2 separate regions of the Homo sapiens genome follow, and region 1 is linked to region 2. Evidence: fine-mapped expression QTL. A gene starts in region 2. The other region holds a variant in brackets. All regions are shown on one strand. Distances are from middle to middle.

The links. PIP is the estimated chance that this variant, and not a neighbour inherited with it, causes the effect.
Region 1: its variant is fine-mapped to the expression of NGLY1 in sun-exposed skin (GTEx, PIP 0.98).

The regions. Positions count from the first base shown.
Region 1 is chr3:26,227,906-26,239,741 of GRCh38, forward strand. No RefSeq gene overlaps it. Among named protein-coding and RNA genes, the nearest start is that of LINC00692, 360 kb to the left of the region's middle. The variant G/A (reference allele first, on the strand shown) is at 6,423.
Region 2 is chr3:25,779,617-25,791,452 of GRCh38, forward strand. It overlaps NGLY1 (N-glycanase 1), which reads right to left and starts at 3,827. Exons shown (of 12, transcript NM_018297.4): 1 at 3,644-3,827. The coding sequence starts at 3,774. OXSM (3-oxoacyl-ACP synthase, mitochondrial) reads left to right here and starts at 10,474. Exons shown (of 3, transcript NM_017897.3): 1 at 10,474-10,531; 2 at 11,374-11,836. The coding sequence starts at 11,405. RefSeq lists enhancers at 1,620-1,789, 3,177-3,256, 3,417-3,466, 9,953-10,482, 10,622-10,691 and 1 more and silencers at 3,777-4,016, 10,300-10,519.

The DNA of each region.
Region 1 (11,836 bases), 450 kb after region 2:
GAAATTTTAAGATTTTTGCACTTCGTAGAAAATCACTAACAACTGAAATGACATGACAGATGATCCTGGCTGCTTGAGAGTGTTGAAGTACCCCAAAGAGGTTGAAGCAAGGAAATTGAAGAAAGAATTCCTTTATTTGAGGGAAGGTGGATTAAATCAGAAGGTCCTACACTTGGTTGCTTACTTGAATCACTAGGGAGTTATTTTTTAAAAATACTAATGTCAGAAATCCAACCCAGAGATTCTAATTCAGTAGATGTGAAGCAAGGCCCAAAAGTCTAGATTTTAAAACAGAAAGTTCCTCAGATGACTCAGATGTGCAGTCCAATTTAAGAACCACCAAGGCCTTAAAGCTCTCTCCAGCATTCAACTTCAAGCTGCTGGGGGACAACAAAGAGCCATGGAGGATCTTCTTGACAGCACCCTGAGCTGGCTCTGTGGTTCTCCATGCACCACGGAGTTCTCCATGCACTACGAACTTGCACTTATTCTTTATCTCATTACATTTTGCACAGTGCCTGTCAAAGTCAGGAGCCTCTGTGAGTTGTTTACATGGATTATTTAAAGTAATCGTCATAACAAACAAGCCTTGCTTGTATAATCATTTTGTGTTTGTGGAAACTGAGGTTCAGAGATATTAGAAAATGACTTAGTAGTAGAATTGGGATTCAGGTCCAGATTGTCTGATGGCAAAGTTGGTTCTCTCCATTGATGAGTTCTCCTTCCTTCCACTATGCTATTCTGAAAACGAAAATGTGTTAATGCTTCAGAAACATAAAGGAACATACCCTGGAAAAGGTAGGAAAATGACAAATGTGACAGATACTTCTTGCTTTTCCCTCCTTACCACCTCCTTCCTCAGACTCTTCAGTTCTACGGGTCCTTCATTCTCCCTTCTTCCGACACATTAGTGAAGCATATGTTACTTTTACTCTTAAAATAGAATGCCTTTATTTCTTAAGCTGCCAAAACATTTCTGGATCTTTGATTTTTTTTTTCCCAAATGAACACTAACAATATTTTTATGGTCTACTGAGGATTTTATTTATACAGAATATATCTGAATGGGTTGGAAAGAAAGAAGCTGTTTCAAGAAAAAGCTCAGTAGGAGTGACCACCATGGCTTTGTCCTCACAAGCATCCTGTCTCAGGCACAATCCATAGACTGGCTGTGACAAGAATGCAGGTAGGAATACATAGAAAAAACCCCCAGCCAACTACCACCATAATGTGAATATTATTTCTAAAACTTACCCTATAAATTAAGCACAGTGTGCTTGGCTACAAATCCTATCTCTGAGCTTTAGACTATACATGATCTTCATCATCAAGCATTTGCTCAGAGAATCATGTGTGTTTTTTTTTGCAATAATAACACCGTATGTATGTATATGTGTATGTATGTATCCCTCTCTCTCTCTCTCTGAACTTGACTTGTCTCATTAAACATGCGAGTTGGGATTCTAATTTTCCCAAGCACAACTGCTAGAGAAGTAAATAGTTTAAAAGTATTTATAATCAACATGCTTTTAAATAAGTTTTATAAACACGGAGGGAAAACAGCTCAATATTTTTCAGCTCTCAGCCATTCCATTACAGTCTCCACAGAACAGGTTTCATACAGCTGATGACCTTTAAACACAAATCACACAAGTTCAAATAGCTCTTTTATTACTAGCACAAATTTAATGTATTTTTTAAAAGGACCTCTTTTAAAAAATAGTAAATTTAAATATAATGTGCAGGCAGGCTGCTCAGTTGTGTCTGGCCTTTTTTGTAAATATGATGTATGGAGTTCCAATGTAAACACTGTGCCCCAGGTGAAAAGTTCTGCCTTGTGGAATGGCAGGTCTTCAGACAGAGGTAGATAGATGGGTTTTACTGAGCTGTTTGAAAAGAAAGATGAAAGGTGAGGGCCAACTGTCAAGCTGGTGCAGCCTTGCCAGAGCTTTTTAATAAGACATTATTAGGCTGTAGGAGTCTTTTCAGGCTTTCAATCCTGTTCACACTTAACTGATTGCACTCCTTCTTCACAGCTGCTTCTCACATAACATCTTCAAGCACTTACTGCAGCCAGAGTGAGGTTTGAATTTCAGCCAAGCATTGGATTTCCATTAAATTAAACAAGGAGAAAAAGTTAGAAGAGGAGAGGTATATGTGATGGCGATTGGGCATACTGTCTGGTTTTCATGTTCTTTGAGAAATCGTGTTTCACTTAACAAACATCTGTGGAGCTCTGAGTTGGGGAGGAGCATGGTGCATCCAGAGGCTTGGGAGACCCATCTTAGGGCTGCTGCAAAACAGGGGGCAGGCAGGACTCATTCCTTCTCTGGGCATAGGTTTCTTTATCTGGATATTCAGGTGCTGAATAGATAAGTTTTCTGACTGCTTTGGGCTCCATGATTCCAGAGCAGGAATTAGTAGATTTTCTCTTTAAAAGGCAAGCTGGTAAATATTTTAGGCTTTGTGGGCCAAGAGGCAAAATCAAAGATCTTGTACAGGTATTTATATAACAAGAGAGGAAAGAAATATCCATAAATTTTTTTGAAATAATTCAGTATATTAATAATAATTGAGTCCATTGTTTTTTGTAATGCAGATATTCTATCAAGGAGAAGGACTTTATGTTATTGCTGTTGTTGGGAGGTAGATAACATCTTGCTTAACTGGAACTCAAAGATAGTGTTTCCCATCATCAGATTGATTGCAAATGTTTATCTGTACAAACTATTTTTAGCTGTCAGGCTATTAAAACACCAGGGGTGAGACCAATGTGGCCCATGGGATGTAGTATGCCAACCACTGCCTAATGGTGCAGGCTCTTTAAGAGGGTAACACAAGAACTGAGTTAGAAGTAGAGAGCTAAAAAAGGAAAGGTGTCTCAGACAGACGGGAAAGCATGAACAAAAGCATGAAAACAGTTCATGATAAATAGCAAAGTTATAGGGCAGTGGAAACTCAGAAGAAGGTGAGGGGATTGGTTCTAGGTGAACAATTCTTCAGGCAAATGTCACACAAGCAGAATGCATTCTTAATTCATAGGTGACCAATTAAAAATTATTTTTACCTAATCTGACTCAAATTTTCCACCTTTGTCACATTCTCTCTATGATCATTTCTATGATTATTTTATTGTCAGTCATTATTCATGACAATTCAATTTTTTAGTTGATTTCTGTAGCTTATAAAATTCTACATAACCTGCTATCAAAATTTAGTCATGAGTTGTAATAGATGATATAAGCAAGCAACTTTGGGGGCTCAAGGCATTGCTGAGTTCTGATTGGATGAAGTAACTGGTCTTATGATTTGTTTAAATGTCAGTCAGTCAGCCAAGGATGTACATTTGGAAGATTTGGATATTGCCTCTGCAGTACAGTCATGTTATATGCTTTATAGATTTTACATAGTATACAATAGTTTTACATTTTTGTAAGTAAATATGTACGATGTCATGAATTATGTTGTTGATACAAAAATTAAATCTTCTTTCCAAAATACCCAGAAAATGAATACCCATTTTGTTGTATAATTTATGCAAACTTTGCCTGTGGGACCGAAGCCAGAATGTTCCATGTTCCTTTTTTGGCTAAGCAAATGTTGGGTGGTCCAGAGAGGCATCTATCCCATAGCTCTTTGTAATGTCTATCATAGCCTGGGTTCTTGGAAAGTAGAGTCTGAGGAAAGGGTGAAAAGCTGAGGCTTTATATGGGAGATGTAGTCTAGAGCAGGAGAGTGAGGAAAAGAGAAAAGAAAGATGTGAAGTGACATGAAATGCTGCATTGCTGTGCTCACCATTGCTTTATAATCAACATCGGGAGACATTCTGGTTTGCTTGGCTAATGTATTTACTGAATCTAAAGGATGTCTCCAGCCTGGTTGGAGAAACTCCAGCTCAGAGAAGTCCATGAGAGCAATAAAGGAGGTGAAATTTATTTGCCCAGCCCTCTCCCCAGCTTCATTTTCTCATTGGTCCAAATACATCTCATGGAACATAACTCTCCCCCACTTTCTGCTTTACATCATGTGGCCTTTTTAGTGGCAACCTGGGATGCCACACCTTCTTACTTGCAGCGTGGTATTTCATACAACTCCAGAAGAGGTGAGAGAATGAGAAACTCCAGGCATATGGCTGCTTGAGCCAGAGGCATGGCAATAGCCCAGGGTGAAGCTTAACATTCCCAGAGCAACAGGACAGCCAATGGAGTGTATGGCTTCTACAAGATCTTTTAGTCAGATGTCAGGTTAGCCTTAGAGGACCACTGCTTCTAGGGAGAGGTCAATAAGCTCAAGGTGGGATTCAACTGAACCTAAAATGTTAGGTGAAATTCAGATTTCTAGAGAAGTAGAGTGTGCCCTTCCTTATGAAGCAGTTAATAATAACTAGATACAGAGATAAAAACCTGAGGACAAATGCTGGGGACTATGAGTAAGCTGTTCTTGCTGTAGTGATCTTAGACTTGTTTCTTTGTGTTGTCTGTTGGTTGCCTACCCACCTTTCCTCCCACCCTCATCTTCCTCTAATGAAACAACTACAGTTTCACACAATGTCTTGCCTTTTCCATGTGCACACATGCTTCAGGGAAAGCTATCCTCACCTCAGACTTGGAGATTGAATCTTGATTACTCAAAACCAATCTAGAAGATCCCATGTCATTTGCTGTGACTGGCTGAGAGATGGGCATGTGACTCAATTATGTTCAATGAACATAAATCTGCTAAAGGGTTCTGGGTGAGTTCCCTTGATCATTAGAAAGAGATTTGGATATATATGTTGTCAAGTCTGGATATGGTATCTAGATTAGCTATAGCCATCCTAAGGCACTGAGGGAAGCCAGAGTTGGGGGAAAAGTAAGGCAGCAGAGATGATAACAGAGAGTGAAGTGAAGAACTTTCATCTTCAATCAGATTTTGTCCATTATGTTAACGAATATCTCCTTTTCCCTATACAATGCTTGTTGACATTCCTCGGATCAATGAAAAGTCCTTTATACTACCATGACAGGAGTTTTGACTTTTTCTGACCATACGTGAGTATATTGTAGACAAGATGTTAACTTTTTCTGGTTTTGACTACACTCAATAACCAGTAAATAACTATCCCATCATGACATTCTATGTTTCTGTGGGGTTTTAATTGAACTGTAATAAAGGCACGTGTTCAACTTCCCATATTTATGTATCAGAAATTTTGCCATAGATGAAGATTAATAGTCAATGTATGGATAGTACCTCTTGGAGTATTTCTGCTCATATGATCAGCCTCATTTTTAAAAGCAGAGAGCTTTTTTGAGTGCTAATATCCTAGAGTTAGCAATTAGTTATCTTCTCCCATCCAAATTTAATTTTAAGACTTGTACCAGGATATGTTTACATGGCCTGAATAATTTACATGCAACACACTCAGCTAGTGTTAGATTGAGCAGTATCAATGTTTGAGATGCCCATGAATTTATCAGCCTTGCTGGAATTACTCCATCCATATTGGATGTGACTTCATGGTAAAACTCCATAAACTGATTCCTCAGCCTGAACTTTGTCTAGCTCATCTTTTTTAAGATAGCCTCTGAGAATACTCTATAATCATTCTCTCTTACAGTCTCTACTCCAGTGGAAGAACCCTAATTGGCTAGCTTACCCACTCATCTCACCACGTGGACTAGTTTACATAGGCCAGAATGGTGTGGCTAGTCACATGGAGAGCATGGTATATGTCAGAAAATGTTTGTTGTGAATGATAATAAGCCGCCCAGCAACATACATTTAAACAACACCTCTGTGTCTTCTCCTACTTCTTCTTCTTTAACTTTGTCTTCCTCTTCTTTGTCGTTGTTGTCATCATCGTTGTTGTCATCTTCCTCTTCTTCTTTTTTTTTTTTTTTTTGACAAGATCTCACTCTGTCACTGAGGCTGGAGTGCTGTGACATGATCTCAGCTCACTGAAGCCTTGACCTTCTGGGCTCAAGTGATCCTCCTACCTCAGCCTCCCCAGTAGCTGGGACATGCATGCCACCATGACTGGCTAATTTTTGTATTTTTTATAGAGACAAAATTTTGCCATGTTGCTCAAGCTGGTCTTGAACTCCTGAGCTCAAGCAATCCACCTGCCTCAGCCTCCCAAGTGCTGGGATTACAGGCATGAACCACCATGCCTGGCTTATTTTCTTCTTATTACAAAAAAGTAGGACATTGTCATTGCAGGTCTTTTAGGCAAACAAAATCTAACCATTTTAAATATTTGGTTATATAACTGTTAAACTTTTTCTTTTTTCTTTCCTTGTTTCCTTCTTTCCTTCCTTCCTTCCTTCCTTCCTTCCTTCCTTCCTTCCTTCCTTCCTTCCTTCCTTTCTTTCTTTCTTTTTCTTTCTTTGCATATACACAACATACACATAAAGAGTCTTATGTAAGAATGAGGAAATTGG[G/A]TTAAAATACTTATGCTATCTGGTATCCTTTTATTTTTTCTTTTCACATGTGGATTTCTTTCCACATATGTTTGCTTTCAAAGGTTGCTTGGTGCTTTATCATCTGTAAGCATCATAATTTATTTAATCTATTTCTTATTTTCCTGTTGATGGAGATTAATATTATTTTCTACTTTTCTGTACAGCAAACAATATTGAAATGAAAATACTGATACACATATTTCACATTGTCCCATGACCATCTGCCTGGCAACTCTAAGAGAATCAATTTAAAAACTGTTAGAAAAAATAAAAATGCTAAGCAAGGTGGTCAGTTACAAAATGAGTATATCAAAATCAATAGCTTTCCTAATATACCAATAGGAGTTGGTTAGAAATTTTAATGAAAAAGGAGATCTCATTCACAATAGTAACAAAAGAACAAAATACCTAGGAATAATTAATAAAAAGTGTCTAAGACCTATGTGAGTAGAATTATAACATTTTATAAGGAAAATACATGGGGAAATAGAAATAATTGTTCATGTATTGGAAGAATCGGTAAGAATGCAAATGCTTCTTAAATTAATCTATTCTATCAACCCAGTCCCCATGGAAGTTTCAATTGGATATTTATGAAAAAGAGAGCAAGAGGGGACTGAAAAAACATACCTGCCTCTATTCCCACTTCAAATTCCTAGAAATAATACAAGCATAGATTTTAAAACTAAAATCTGTAACAATGCTGAAAAACCAGAACAGATCCTGTAGATGGATGGATGTATGTTATAAGAAATCCCTGAAGTAATTAGTTCAGATTGGATTGGAATAGCAAACCGACTGTCTAAAACATGAACAGCGTAGTTTTTCTACACAAAATAGGAGCAGTGTCAGGGAGGTTCAAAATCAGGAGTTGCCAACAGAGGAGAAAGAGGCTCTGGAACAATTCTCAGAATGACTGTGTGAGGTTCTACAGAAGGAGAAGCTGTGAGAACCAGCAATATTTGCTCCTCTCAATTGTGCCAAGCGACAGACAGCAGAAATGTTTCCCCCTGCAGAGACAATGAATGAGACTCGGGCCTCAGAGAAAGGACAGTGCCCCAGGTTGTTGATATCATATGCCAGGGAGGGTCCTAATACTAATAAGATAGGCCTGTCTTACGAAGCAGCATGTTCTCTCCCTATAATGAATAGTGACAAATACAGTTGTCCCTTACTATCCACTGGGGGATTGGTTCTAGGATTCCTATGGATACCAAAATCCATATATGTTCAACTCTCTTATGTAAAATAGCATATTTGCATATAACCTACATATATCCTCCAGTACAAGTTGAATAGTTTCTAGATTACTTACAAATAATAAAATGTAAATGCTATGTAAATAGTTATTATACTGTATTATTTTTTATTTGTATTATTTATCTAGAATATTTTCCATCTGTAATGGTTCAGTCTACAGATGTGGAACCCATAGATATGAAGGGTCAACTGTATAGTATTCTCAGATAGGCTAATAGAGAATCTCAAAATAAAAGATACACACTACCAAGAGTCATTAAGTTGTTGGAAAAACTAACATTATGAAAAAAGCCATCAGAATCAACAAATAGAAAAATGACCAGCAAAGGTCAGAATTAATAAAGCAAACAGAAAAGGAATGCAAATATGTTTTAGAATCTTCTCATAAGACTCAATTTAACTGCACCTTATTCATTTTAGTATGTGCATAGTGTTCTAGGATGTGTCATATAGTGTTTAACCCTTACCTTGTTGAAGGACATTTAAGCACTTTCCAATTTTGCCTTATTATATGCAATGTGCAAAGATGACCCATGTACAAGCCTCTTTGAACATGTATGTGAATATAACTGATATCTTCAGAGGAATGTGATAAGATACTGCAACCATTAAAAAAGTAAACTAGCCGAATATATTTCTTAAAGAGAAGGTATATCAACTATTCTATGATAAAATATATTTTGGATGGCATTCTTTAAACTTTGATGATTTATTACATACTAATCCCACCAAACAGTGGCCTAATCAAGTAACTTTAGGAGATATTTGCAAATATATTTTTTTCTTGGAGGAATAAACATTATTCAAAGTTAGATATTCTTTGTTAAAATCTTATTTTGATAAAGGCAAGTGTCTTATTACACATGCCTCAAAAATGTTAAAGCTATGAGTATTACAGCTATATTCCATGAAGTATTCAACGTGGAACAGAATTTGGGGTCTCATTCACCGAGCCACCCAGGACATAGAATTTATTCAAAACCATTTTCTGAGGAAAAGCTTGACTGGATCTGCCTATGGGTTAATGGGAAAAGGAAATCCTGTAAGTTACACAATTCTCCCTGAGCAGTTGAATTGCTTCCTTTCTTCCGAACATTGTGAATTGTGTAGCTGACCTGGTTTTCTTTTTCCCATTGGCTACCTGCCACATTTTGGGTCATAAGTTCACACTATGATGTGCATTGTAAACTTCATTCCTGTTCTCTATTTATGTCCTTAATGTGATTTTCTTTTTAGTACTTCTTTTGCTTCACTTTTAATTTTTGCTATTTCTTGTATTTTAATGTCTCCTTATAAACTGTTTTAAATTATTTCTGAAATAAAGTGTTATAAAGATATATAGATGAGTGGTGGCTAAATAAAAAATAATATACATACAACATGCAGGCCAGAAGTTATACTTCCTAATGAGTATAACACCTTAAAAATATTTTATCTTAAGAGACCATAAACATATTGTAATTGATGTTGTCACTAACAAAAACATCTTTGAAACTTCTTTTTTAGGTTTTCCTCCTCAGCTTTTGGCACAGTGTGTAAATGTCTGTAAGATTTATGGGTCATGATTATAAGACTTTGTGGGTCACTGTGGTTTCTAGAAAAAAATCCCCAAGTGTTTCATGGTAAAGCCTGCTAACCTAAATGGCTCAGTGAGCTGGGTAATCAATCAAGTTGACTTTTCTTCTCCAAATATACAGTATACGTACATAAAGTGATATGACATTTTTAAAAATGTTCTTAAAAAACTGGCATTGAAAGTGTTTCCCAAGGTACAGCTCAGAGGAGTTTGCATGCCTGTTGGCATTGTTAGGCGAAGGGCGTGCCCTTTGAGGAAGTCCATTAATTTGGATGTATTTGTTCTGATGTGTTTTTTTCAAAAGCATCTCACCACCCCCACCCTACCCCCACAACCAAGAGAAAAAGAGAAGGTTTGGTGAAGTATTAGTCATGGTAATTAACACATCACAAGAAAAGTACATACGGACTCCCACTCATTTTTAGGAAATAGAGAAAATTGCTTGGGATCCTAGGCACTTCCCATCATTCTATAATTCACCTACAATAGAGCACAGATGTGCTTTTTGTATATTCTGAGAGTATAGGGCTTCGTACCTATATTTTTATAGGTATGAAGTGGTATACCACTGTTTTATAATAGTGGTATTATGCAGTTATTTCTGGTTGGAAAACCTGAAACCATTTTGCCCCGGTGAATGACGATTTTTGAAAATCTGCTCATGATCTAGTCTTTTAACTGCAGCCCAGCATGTCTCTTTCACTGAATGTTTTATGTTTAATACAACTGCTACAGCACCATGACATCATAGAATGTTATTACTTGAAAAGGCCTTAGAGGTTATCCAGGCTGTTGGACTACAGGTAGGTATAGAACTATGTGGCACAAGGGTTCAATGCTTTGAATTGAATTCATATGCCAGTGTTGAAGTTGCTTTAACAACTACAAAACAAGCTAAAAATAATTAATACTGAGAAAGATTACTTAAGACAAGAGGATTCCAACTTTATCATAGGCAAGTTTAGGGGGCCAGTGGAAGAAGAGATACAGATTGCCAGGACCCAAGACAATGGCAAAAGTAACAAGATAATCTGTGCAATGTGGCTTGTGTCCCCACCCAAATCTCATCTCGAATTGTAATCCCCATATATCCAGGGAGGAACTTGGTGAGAGGTGATTGACTCATGGGGGCGGTCTCCCCCATGTTGTTCTCATAATAGTGAGTGAGTTCTCATGAGTTCTGATGGTTTAAAAGTGTTTGGCAGTTCACCACCTGAATGTCTCTCTCTCTCCTGTCACCATGTAAGTTGTGACTTGCTTCCCCTTTGCCTTCCATCATGATTGTAAGTTTCTGGAGGCCTCCTCAGTCATGTGGAACTGTGAGTCAATTAAACCTGTTTTGTTTATATGTTACCCAGTTTTAGTAAGTGCTTTATAGCAGCATGAAAACAGACTAATATGTGGCCCAAGATGATTTCTATGTCTAGGTTGAAGGATAAGAAGATAGATAATTAAACAGTGAAATTCAGATATGATCATGCAGCAGTTCTTGTGAAGAATATGGTCAAACATTAAAGCAGGGAATAATGATTCTTTTCTATGCAGATAGATTGCTGAGTTGCATGTAGAGTTTCTCCTGACCAGGTTGATTTGGAGTTGCCAAAAGAAGTGCTCAGCACTTATTTAAATTAGATTAAGTAGGATTAAGAGTTGTCCTGTGGCACCAACCAACATCACAGCCTCTTGACACTGGACTGTAGGATATATCAGAAAGAAAGAAGTGGTCTAGTTGGCAGGATCATCTAACTCACTAATTTTACAGTTGAGAAAACCAAGAATAAAGAGATGACTAATAAAAATGAATCAAATTGTTGGGGCAAAGCTAAAACCATTAGCTGGGTCTTCTTCTACTCCTATTTCTTCTTCTTTTTTTTTAAATTTTTTTTTCTTAAATTTTATTTTATTATTATTATACTTTAAGTTCTAGGGTACATGTGCACAATGTGCAGGTTAGTTACGTATGTATACATGTGCCATGCTGCTGTGCTGCACCCATTAACTCGTCATTTAGCATTAAGTATATCTCCTAAAGCTATCCCTTCCCCCTCCCCCAACCCCACAACAGTCCCCTGAGTGTGATGTTCCCCTTCCTGTATCCATGTGTTCTCATTGTTCAATTCCCACCTATGAGTGAGAACATGCGGTGTTTGGTTTTTTGTCCTTGCGATAGTTTACTGAGAATGATGATTTCCAATTTCACCCATGTCCCTACAAAGGACATGAACTCATCATTTTTTATGGCTGCATAGTATTCCATGGTGTATATGTGCCCCATTTTCTTAATCCAGTCTATCATTGTTGGACATTTGGGTTGGTTCCAAGTCTTTGCTATTGTGAATAGTGCCACAATAAACATATGTGTGCATGTGTCTTTATAGCAGCATGATTTATAGTCCTTTGGGTATATACCCAGTAATGGGATGGCTGGGTCAAATCGTATTTCTAGTTCTAGGCCCCTGAGGAATCGCCACACTGACTTCCACAACGGTTGAACTAGTTTACAGTCCCACCAACAGTGTAAAAGTGTTCCTATTACTCCACATCCTCTCCAGCACCT
Region 2 (11,836 bases):
GGTGAGTAGGCAAATGCTAGCAAATGACTTATCAACTTTGTCCTATCTACACATGTTCTCTAGGTATTCTGACGTAAAAACAAAACCAAAAACCAAATATTTTAATTTTATAAGTTTTAACAAATTTTGCATTTGTTTTTCACCAGTCAATTGCCTATTGGCCAAAGTGTCATAAATACTAAATGAATGTTTTTAAACTTTTCCCTAATTTCAAAAATCATGTTTATTACAGAATATTCAGAGACAAATGCTCTATTTTTTTTGCTATTCAAAATGTCCACAGATTGGTGCTAATCTACAAATTATTTGTTACCCATACACAAGTAGTACAGAAATTTTTTCTTTGTTTGTTTACAAGTGCATAAAAATGAAGCAAGAAGTAGAGAAATTGAATGTTCGGTATACAGCAATTTGATATTGCCATGAAATTTTCAGTGTATTTTACAAAAGTTATAGGTCCATAAGGGATTGGAAATTAAAACAAAAACATTGTTCTTTACTATATGTAATTTGAGAATCACAGATGGTTGTGAAATACAAAGAAAATTTTATTCTCAACTCTTTATTCTGTGTATTAGATTAGGGTTTCTCAGTCTCAGCACCATTAACATGTGGGGCCTTTTCTCAGTGGAGTTTCCTTGTGCACTGCAGAACATTCGCATTCCTGGCTTCCATGCTACACTGTCTCACAAGTGAGCCTCTCTTTCTTATCACTTAAGAAAACTGAACTATAAAATAATCCTACATTTATCAAAGCTAGTTTTCGATAAATGGGGCATCTTTTCCTGACACTCAATGTATTTCACAGGGTGATAAACATGTCAGTACCACCAGGATGATATATCCTACTGGTTCAAAACTGCTTGAGCTATTTTAATCTATTCTTTTCCTCACAGCTTTCAGATCTCTACATGCTGGGTCTTTCTCTGGGCTAATTTTCTAGTTTCTTCCTGCTTTCACAATTGTTTAAAAATTCTTATAAAATACACATCAGTTCTCATATAGTTTTTGTTTTGTTTTTTAAAAAACAAAGTGTTGCTCTGTCACCCCGGCTAGAGTGCAATGACGCCATCAAAGCTCATTGCTGCTTAGAACTCCTGGGCTCAACAATCCTCTGCCTCAGCCTCTGAAGTAGCTAGGACTACAGGTGAGCCACCACGCCTGGCTATTTTTTTTTTTTATTAAGAGATGGGGTCTCACTGTGTTGCCCCGGCTGCAATCCTTCTACCTGGGGTGTCCTAAAGCCCTGGTACTACAGGTTGGAGCCACTTCGACTGGCCTTTGTTATTTTGATATATGTTGTTACCATTTAACTATTGATATACAATATAGATTTTCCTCTTTAGTTTCTAGTGAGCATTTTTTTTTTCTTTTTTGAGAAAGGTCTCACTTCGCCATCAAAGCTAGAATGCAGTGGCATGATTATGGGCTCAAGCCATCCTCCCACCTCTGCCCTCCAAGTAGCTGGGACTACAGGTGTCTGCCACCACGCTTGGCTAATTTTTTAATTTTTTTGTAGAGACGGGGTTTAGCCATGTTGCCCAGGCTGGTCTCAAACTCCTAAGCTCAAGCAATCCGCCCACCTTGGCCTCCCACAGTGCTGGGGTTACAGGTGTGAGCCACCGTGCCCAGTGAGCAATTTTATTTTTATATCATCTCTGGACCTCACATTAATCTATTTTTCTCAGTAAAAGTATACTGCAAACAGGCTCCAGCAATGACAGTCACATCCAGTTCCTCAAATTCTTTTTCTTATTAAGTATGTTGAGTAAACTGACCGTGGTTTTGTGTATAGACTGATACCAAAGGCCTGACCCTAAAGCCCTCAAAGACTTAGAGGGCTGTAGGGACATTAGACTTCAAACCCATCATATCCTCTTTCCTATCCTTGGAAAAGCAACGCACAAAGACTTTCTTAAACTCTTAATTTCTCAGCATTATTCCAGTGTGTCCACTATCCTTTGCGCTCATTGTCACACCCCTCATCTTTCAGAATCTTGAAGCTGTGAGGCGGAGGTTGCAGTGAGTCAAGATCGCGCCACTGCACTCCAGCCTCATCAACAAGAGCAAACTCCGTCTCAAAAACGAAAATCAGCAACGAGCCATTAGTAAACATTCATAATGAAGATTATGATGCTAAATGTCATTATTTGCATGCAAAGGTTTCCCCCTCATACTAAACCTCAGCATTTTGGGTTTCACTAGATTTAAAGCAGAAGTGAGGCTTCATTACAAGGCCACCTCTCTTTTCTGACTAGTGGGGTTTTAAATAGCCTGGTGGCTTTCCAGGTGGTAAGTCTCAGCTAATGGGCTCTGGAGAACCCAGCCTATCAGTTCATTTATGGAGTCCCTTGGCATCCTTGTACTGTGAAGAGCTGTAAGGCCTCAAAGAGTAAAAAAGGTGAGTTGAGAAGGTGTCACAGAGCACGAAGGTGGTCCCCACACAGGTCACAATTATGTAGCTGTGAACAGGCCACATGTTGCATCTTTCATAGCATCTGCCACAAAATAAGGGCTCAATATATTTTCCCTTCAATTTACTTTAAAAATCATTACCATTGCCTAAATGAAATATTACTGACATGGATTTTAAAAACTGCACATGTAACTAATGTCTAAAATTGGGTCACGTGAAACCTATAACCTTGAAACTGAGAATTTCCTTTTAGACTTCATGACAATATACCAAACACTTAATGCACCAGGGGCTGAGGGGAACAGAGAACCTAATTAATCACGGTGACCTGATAAATGAGGTAACACCCCTAAAGCAAGTGGCTCTCCTTTAACCTCAGTTCCATTTCCCTACCCCCCCACACCATGTCCCTTCAGATCATTTGATCTGAAGAGTTGAGGTGGGTACTTATTCAAAATGAATAATCAAACTTGCCTCCCAATTCCCAAAATCTGCAAGGTCCCTTAGACCTCTAGAAGTGCAATTTTGCTGACAGGAGAATGAAGGAAATTACTCTCATCCAAGGCGATTACCTCCACGAATTCTTAAAGGGTTATGTTACATAGTAGAATCCAGGTATTAATATAAAAACTGTAACTTCAAAATACTATAATGTTTCAATCAACAAAAGTGGGCAGAAAAAAAATTAAAAATTTTAAAACCCACCACTTCAGAAGCATTATGCTTTAGTACTCGGATAGTCTCAACATGGGAAGAAAACATCACTTTGTCAGTGAGTAACTTCTGATAAGTATGTGGAAATGTAAGCCACTCCGCTCGAAAAATGCACGCAGGGGGAATGACACGCGCGGTGCGGTTACCGTTGTGTCCCGATATCTGAGGCCGTTAAACGACGAGAAGAGCGGCAGTGTCTGAAGCACGCCTTCCTACCTCTCCTCCGCCCGGCCCCGCTTCCGGGACTCCAGTTCACCCGCAGCACCCTGACTGCAGGTGCCAAGTCACAACTGCAAAGAAACTTCCTTTTCTCGAGCGGGGGTGGGACTTGGCCGGGTCCCGAGGCCCCTGGCCGGCGGGCTCGGACGTTAGGAGCAGAACCAGCTCCAGGTCCCGGTCTGTCCGGGCGTCGCTGCCCTCTGAAGCTCAGGCCGGACGCCCCAGTCCCTGGCCGAACAAGGTGCCGCGGCCCACCCACCCCGGTACCCGCCGTCCGACCCCGTTGCCCTGCACCTGAGGATGTTGTCAGCATAGGTGAGCAGCAGCTTGGAGGCCTCCAAAAAGGTCTCCGGGGTGTTCTGGCAGAGCTCAGCCACGGCCGGGGACGCCGAGCCTGAGGAGCTGCCCAATGCCGCCGCCGCCATGCTTGAGCGCCAGCGGGCGCCGCCGCCGCCCCTCGCTCTCCGCGTCCCACACTGAGCAGGCGCCTCAGCGCGCAGCAGCTACCGCAGCCACCGGCAGGGGCGGGGTCCTCGGCCGGCAGGGGCGGGGTCCTCGGCCGGCAGGGGCGGGGTCCTCGGCCGGCAGGGGCGGGGTCCTCGGCCGGCAGGGGCGGGGTCTTCGGCCGGCAGGGGCGGGGTCGGGGGCCTGGGGCGGGGTCGGGGACCGGGGCCAGGAGCGGGGGAGCTCGGCTGGGAGCTACGGCTGCCCCTTCGCGGGGGGCAAGGGGCTGTTCGGAAGAAGGTGGGGGGCCTCGGCCGGCAGGGGCGAGGTGCTTCGACCCAGAGTTGGGGCCTGGTCGTACAGGTTGGGAAGGGGTTCCGCAGGGAGAGGCGGGGCCTGGGCTCCGGGGCTGAGGGGTGTGGGCCTGGAGGAGGGGGATGTCGAGTCCTTTAGGACGGAGGAGCTCGGCTGGAGGGGAGGCCGGCTTTGGTCTAGAGGTATCGGGCGAATGGTGCTGGCACGTGCCTCTCAGAAACCCGGATCCCTTTGCGCTCCGGGGCCAGCCTAATTGATCCAGCTATTAAGGTGGAGAAACCGCATGTACCTCCCTCCTTTCCCCACAAATAAAACCACCTTAGAGCCTTCTCTTCGCAGATTGTCAGGACGTTCTACATAGATGTGGATGAAAGACTACAGAAGGAAGGAGCAACAAACGTCAAAAACAAAACCATGGCTATAAACTCTGCTGGGTTTGTTATATGGATTCTTTTCAGAATTTGGCTAATGACTGAAAATCTAAGTTCCAGCTCAACTAGTATATGATTCCTCTGTAAGGAAGTGTATTTTTAAACCATAGGTTGCGACATAATAATGGGTTGTGGATTCGGTTTACCGCGTGGTGACCAGCGTAAAACACATGCATAATAATTACGCAATATTATAGAATGTCGGGGGCGGGAAGGGAATAAAAATTTGCATCCCACACAGTAAGGGTAAGTAATATTTTGTGACTTGTTTTTTAGGTAGATCATGTGATCAAGGTCTTTTATTCCTCTTAGAAGATGCATCCCTTACTACTTTAATCCAGTCTCTTCCCCACCATGTTCTTGAAAGTGTACTTTACCAGTGGCTTCCTTCTTTGCAGAAATTCCTTTTCAACCTCACGAAGTATTTTTCTTGACTTTATTTCTTAAGATAAGTGATTTGCCTGAATAACCTCTTTTAAATTTCTTGATGTTTCATCTGTTTACTTTTAAGAATTGAAATTTTCTTCCAGAATCTCCGAACAAGACCCTAAGCTATGACATCCAGTTCAATGACTATTCGTCTCCCAAATATACGTACGCTTTTAATAAATATGTAAATCTTTGGACCACCTTCCAAGTATGGTGTGTTCAACAGATAGTAGTATGTTACTACCGTCTGTAACTAAAATTTTCAGGGGCTTAACACAAGAGTAATTTCTTTCTGGCTCATATAACACTTTAATAATGCAGGTGTCATAATGTCAGTGGACCCAGTCTCCTTCCATACCTTAGAACAGGGGTCAAGAAACATTTTCTGTAAAGGGCCACATAGTGTTTTAGGCTTTGTGAGCCATAAGGTCTGTCTCAACTATTTAACTCTGCCTCTGCAGCTGTTGCTCCACAGACAATACTTGAAAATAAATGGGCATGGTTATGTTCTAGTGAAATTTTATTTACAAATCCAGGCAGCCTGCTTGGACAAAAAAAAAAAAAAAAAAAAAAAAGTCACACCTACTTTTAACCACATGAGCCCAGAAATGACACACAGCATTTTCTCTACCATATCATTACTAAGAATGAGGCCTCATCAAGATAAAAGGGGGTATTTCAGTAAGGCCAGATTTACAAAAAATAAAAAAAAAATTTAAAAACACATAAAAAGATAAAAGGGGAGAGTCTGGGAAATGTAGTCTCGTCCAACTACACAATGGATTGGGGGCTTGGGTCTGGAGATATAGCTATCACAAACTTTATTCCTCTTAATTTGGGTTTCTTTTTCCATTGATACATTTATTTATCCTTTACTAATTATATGAGAATAGTATATATTATACAGTACTTGTAACTTTTAAAAATGCAACAGAACTTTTTTTTTTTTTTCAAATAAAATTTTAGGGGCTGGACATGGTGGCTCACGCCTGTAATCCCAATACTTTGGGAGGCCGAGGTAGGTGGATCGCTTGAGCCCAGGAGTTCAAGACCAGCCTGGGCAACATGGCAAGACCCCATCTCTACAAAAAAAAAACAAAAACAAAAACATAGGAAGATTGTCTATATACAAAACACCAAAGTGGAAATGCTCTGGTATTGAAGCAGAGGTGTCAAGTGAAGGGCAGAAAGCTGTCAGCTAAGGCTTTCCCCTGACAGATAGAATGGTCATAGGGTACTTTTGTGGGGGAACAAAATGACTTTTGTTTTTCTCTTCATAATAGTTTGTTTCCTCAACTAAAACGCTATCTCACTGTAAGTTATCATTAGTTTTGTCTTCCCTATTTGATTAAAAGTCTCTTGTGCCATCTGTCTCAGACTGCTTTGCACACAGCAGGTACTGAATAGAGTTGTTGGTTAATCACTCAATGTAGTCACACAATAGTGAATCACTATACAAATTCCTGAAAGACTTCAACTCCTCCCCTTGCTAATGGTTTTTATGGAGGTTAACTTTTTAATATCACCAAACCAATCGTGGGGAAAATTTACAGAGTTCTTTCTTTTTTGTTTTATTAAAGAATAGTGTTAGCCAGGCGTGTTAGTGCACACCTGGAGTCCCAGCTACTTGGGAGGCTGAGAGGCAGGAGAATCGCTTGAACCCAGGAGGCAGAGGTTGCAGTGAGCTGAGGTTGCCCTACTGCACTCCAGCCTGGGTGACAGAGCGGGACTCTACCTCAAAAAAAAAAAAGAATAGCGCCATGATATGTCAACTCTAAAAATGATGTTTTTAATAAAGGTGAAATCCTGGGGAAAAAAAAAATCTTTATTTTGGAACAAAAATAAATAAATAAAAGAACAAGAATTTCAATGCTGATTTAGTACCCATTCTTTGGTTGTTTGAAACAACGATGGGTATAAAAGTTAGGGTAGCTTATTCAGCTTTTCTAAAGGAAATGGAAGAATTAGAATATCTCCAACTTGACTGAAGTGGGGGAAGCAGCCAGGAAAATGAGAGACCAAGTCCCTTTATATAATGGATTCCCTTAATAGCTTTATAAATGGCAATATTCAAAAGAGATTACAGTTACTCAAGAACTTTAACAGAAGTGTTGCTAAAGAGTTATTTGGAAGGACTTAAATTTCAGATGATTTTTTTAAAATGGTGATTTCCATGATTTTATGGACTGTACATTGTTATCACAATATTAATGCTATGGCATTGGTTTTCGCAAAAGTCATTTGGTGAGAAATGCACAAAAAGTGCATGTGTACTATCAAATGTAAGGATAAATGTTGATTTATTCATTCCATAATTCATTCATTCATCATGTATTTATGAAGTGACTACTAGTTGCTCAGCACTGTGAAGGAGACAAGTATGGTCCCTACTTTCATAGAAGTCATAAGTTTAGAGCAGTGGTTGGACAAGCAACAGCAGCATCAGCAGGAAACTTGTCAGAAAAACAAATTCTGAAGCTCCACATTTAAAGGTGGGACCCAGCAATCTGTGTGGTAACAAGCCCTTCAGGTGATTTTGATTAACAGTAAACTTTGAGAACTACTAGTTTAGAGGGAGGAAAATTTCACTGTGGGCTGCAGTTTCAGTGAGGGGGGACAACTTGAACAGAAGCCTTAAATTGAGAGGTTGAGAAGGTGAGAAAGGAGAGGACTTGCTACCTGTGAGAGACTCCCCACCCTCCTTAAATCATGTACAATATCCTAGTAACGTTTCCTTCTCAACATCTCCTGGATCTCTCCTTGCCATTGCCTTCAGAGCCTCGTGTTTCATCCATTCTTAACTTTCTTCCCTGTGTCCATTTCCACATCCTTCCAACCCACCCTGCTCATTTGTGCAATAGTGATCTTTCTAAAGCACCCATCTGATCATGTTGTTCTCCTGGTAAAAAGTTTTCTATGGCTCCCTCTATCCACATTCTAAAGTCAAATGGTGTCAGGAACCAGGCTGGTAAGTTAAATATTTTAAGTGGCTTTGTTCAAGACAAAGAGGAGTAAGAGAGACTCCAGTGAAGGGAATGAGAGAGTTTACCATGTCCTTTCTAGAGGAGTTTAGAATCAATAAAAGAATGTTGCACTCCAAATTATACCATGAAGGCTAGCATATGGTCTCTGAACTACGGGATTAAATCCAAAGTCCTCAGTATGATACCCCAGGCTTTTGTGATCTGGGCCCTGCCTTACTCTCATGCGTTTACTGTTGCTTTGTCCCACACTTCAAATTTGACATGGGCCACATATTTAGCTGTTTGTGGAAGATACCATGACACTTCATTTCTCCAGGCCTTTGTTCTCCTCCTGCCAGGATGCCCTTTCCCACCCAATTTACTAGACAAACATTCATTTCCAAGATGCAGTTCAAGGATCATTTCTCTGAAGCCTTTTCTGACTTTACGAGGTAGCACAGACCTCATTGTCCCTTTTGTGTTATAATAATTCCACTATAGCACCTGTTTCAACAGTTTGCACTTACTTGTTTCTATGGGTGTCTCCCTTTACTAGACCATAAACTTCTTGAAAGCAAGAGCCATACCTCTACTCATTTTTGCATTCAAACTTCAAGCATTGATAGGAAGAAAATGAGTGGTTGTTGAAAATAGCAAAAGCACAGAGATGAGAAAAGTTAGGGTCAATCAAGACATGTATAGTGAGAAAATCAGTTTGCTGGGTGGCAAGCTCATTTAATAGAGAATGGGAGCCATAATTGGAAAGATAGTTTTGAATCAGATTACAAAGAATTTAAGGCAAACCTAGGAAGTCTTAATAGGAGGGTAGGATAAGCAGAGCCCATTTGAAGATTTTGGTGCAAGAAGACACGATGGAATTGTAGCAGGAAATATGGTACCAAATATGTAAAGCCATTAAATATCATAAAATTTCCCACCCTTTTCCAGATCAAAGAAAAGGTGATAAGAGGTAGATACAAAAATGATGGTCTTTTTATTTTTCTGAAAGATTTTGTCACCTCTTAGCCAAGACGATTTTGTGATATTACAAAAGAAATAGCACATTAAAACTGTATGTTTCTTATGAGTTCAGCTTCAGAGAAAATATTGTAGGTATTTTCACACTATTATTTTAAAGACAGCAATGAAAAGAGATCAAGTTTAGGTACTTACTCATCAAGTGTTACTTTATAACCACATGTGTTTGTTTTAATTCTTCAAGAAACTCTACTTTGTCACTGAATGAGGATCAACTAGAGGTGACTGGTTAGGCCTGGGACGAAGGTCAAACTGAGCTTTGCTGAATTATTTTAAACAAAATAGATTTCCAAACTCATTTAAATCCAGGACCAACCTGGAAAGCTAAGCTTGACTCACATTCTTCTGTAGGGGTAGGAAAGAATGCAGAGCACTCTACTTGGAAACAATGGCTTCAAGAGGCATTGCCCAGAAAAAACCATAAATATGACTAGAAGGTCCAGATGAAGATTCTATGCTCAACCATTTTTCTAAAGAAGAGCAAGGACAAAACTCACGCCTGGGATAGCATGTGAAAAACAGATGTTCGATGAATACCATCTTGTCGACTTCTTGCTTTTTTACATTTTCATGTTATATTTTCCCTTTATCGGTTTGCAGTCAGCTCTAAGCAAACAGTTAATGAATTTTTCACACTTAGAAACAAATGTCTCCATTGTGACAATGGAGACAATTTTTGAGCACTGTCTCAAATCTGGTGATAATTTTTTTTTAAGTGAAAGGAAGTTTATTAGGAAAGTAAAGGAACAAAGAATGACTACTCCATAGGCAGAACAGCCTGGTGACAACTTTTAAAAAGTAAAAACTTTATTACAAAAACATTTGTTTATTGTAGAAAAGCTTTATTAAATAAAGCTAAGCAAAAATAAGGAGGGAAAGATCACAATCAGTATACATCTTGCAGACCTTTAAAGAATTATTTTTGAAAAAACGGATATATACTGTTTTGTAACTATGTCTCCTAACAAATAGTCGCAACATCTCATTAATAAATATTCACCTGCAGAATTATTTTAAACGGCTGCATGGCATTTGGATGTACCACAAGATACACAACAAATTTCCTGATGTTGGCCATTTTGGTTAATTCCACTTTACTCACAATTACTAATAACGTTGCGAGCTATAGCAATAACTTTGAAACTGCAGAGAATTTCCTTAATTCTTTCTTACAATTCCAGTAGAATACGATGGTGTCCCTTCTCCGACAAAAGGGAATATTTGGGCATTATCACTGCCAAAGAAAAATGCCTTTTTGATGGGTGAAAATGCTACCTCATCGCGTTATTGGCAGGTCCTCGATTATCGGCGAGTCACTGAGGTTCCGAGAGGGGCGTCTCTGCTCACGCAAACAGCTACCCAGCCGCCTCCCACGGTCTGACCTCAGCCAAGGTGACGCGGCTTAAAGTCAACCGGCGGAAAGAGAGTCGAACGGGACGCGTGCGTGGGAAAGCGCATGAGCGTACGTGCGAGCGCGCATGAGCGTACGTGCGTGTGCGCGTGCGCTCGAGAGCGTCATCGCCCCCGACTGTGGAGAAGTGTCCGGGGTAGCCCCGTTACAGGTATCGCTGGCTACCCTCCTCCTTCGCCCCTCCTTTCCTCCTTTACATTCAAATCAAGTCGGGGTTGAATTTCGAGAGGGGAGTCCGAGGACCTGGGGCCTGATTTCTTTTTCTCTCGCCATGCTTCTTCGGGCTGTGTACATGTGTGGTGGTGCCTGAGAGGCGATACAGGGAATGGCTACACTCTTTTACTCCCGCCCCTGGCCTTCGTAGTACCCTTGAAGTGATCCACTAGTCGTAACCCCTCCTTCCACCAATGATTCAATTGGAGAAGTTTAGAGGAGTGGAAAGACTTGTCCCCTTCCCCCATCGCAAGCTTGGTCACAGAGTGTATTGCCAACCCATGTATCCAGACGCTCAGTCTAGGGCTCTTGGCCCTGGGTAGCGTTTTGAAAAGGCTGGTTATCCTTAAGTACTGAAGATTGATAAAGCCCACTTACTTACTTAAAAGAATATGCCCTGAAATGTGTTTTCTGTGCCACTGACACCAGAAATGCTATTTAGAAGAAGTTATCAGTAATCCTGACAAAGGATGCTTCCTGCAGCTCAAATCAGGCTGGAGGTGCCTTTATATTTTTCATTGAATTACTGTTTTGGTGACTCGAATGAATCATCAATTCATTTATTTGTCTTCAAATGTCTGACGGCACTTAAGGTCTAAAAAAGAAGGTAAGTTTAAACAGATAGTTTGATGTTAAGGTATAAATTGAAAGTATGTAACATTTTCCCTGTGTTCATTAGCAGCTCATATCAAGCACCCAAAGGAACACCTTGGATGTTTTTCCTTAGGCCCTTAAGCTATTTAAAAGAATACCTCCTAGGTGTGTTGTGGTCTTTTACAGGAATGTGTTTCTGATCATCTGAATCTTAATCATGTCCAACTGCCTGCAAAATTTCCTGAAAATTACAAGCACTCGTCTTCTATGTTCAAGATTATGCCAACAGTTAAGAAGTAAAAGGAAGTTTTTCGGAACTGTGCCAATATCCAGATTGCATAGGCGAGTTGTCATTACAGGCATTGGCTTAGTGACTCCTCTTGGTGTTGGAACTCACCTGGTTTGGGATCGTCTTATCGGAGGAGAGAGTGGAATTGTTTCACTGGTTGGTGAAGAGTATAAGAGTATCCCTTGCAGTGTTGCTGCTTATGTGCCAAGAGGTAGTGATGAAGGTCAGTTCAATGAACAAAACTTTGTGTCCAAATCAGATATCAAGTCCATGTCTTCTCCCACCATCATGGCCATTGGGGCTGCAGAATTAGCCATGAAGGATTCTGGCTGGCATCCTCAGTCAGAAGCTGATCAAGTG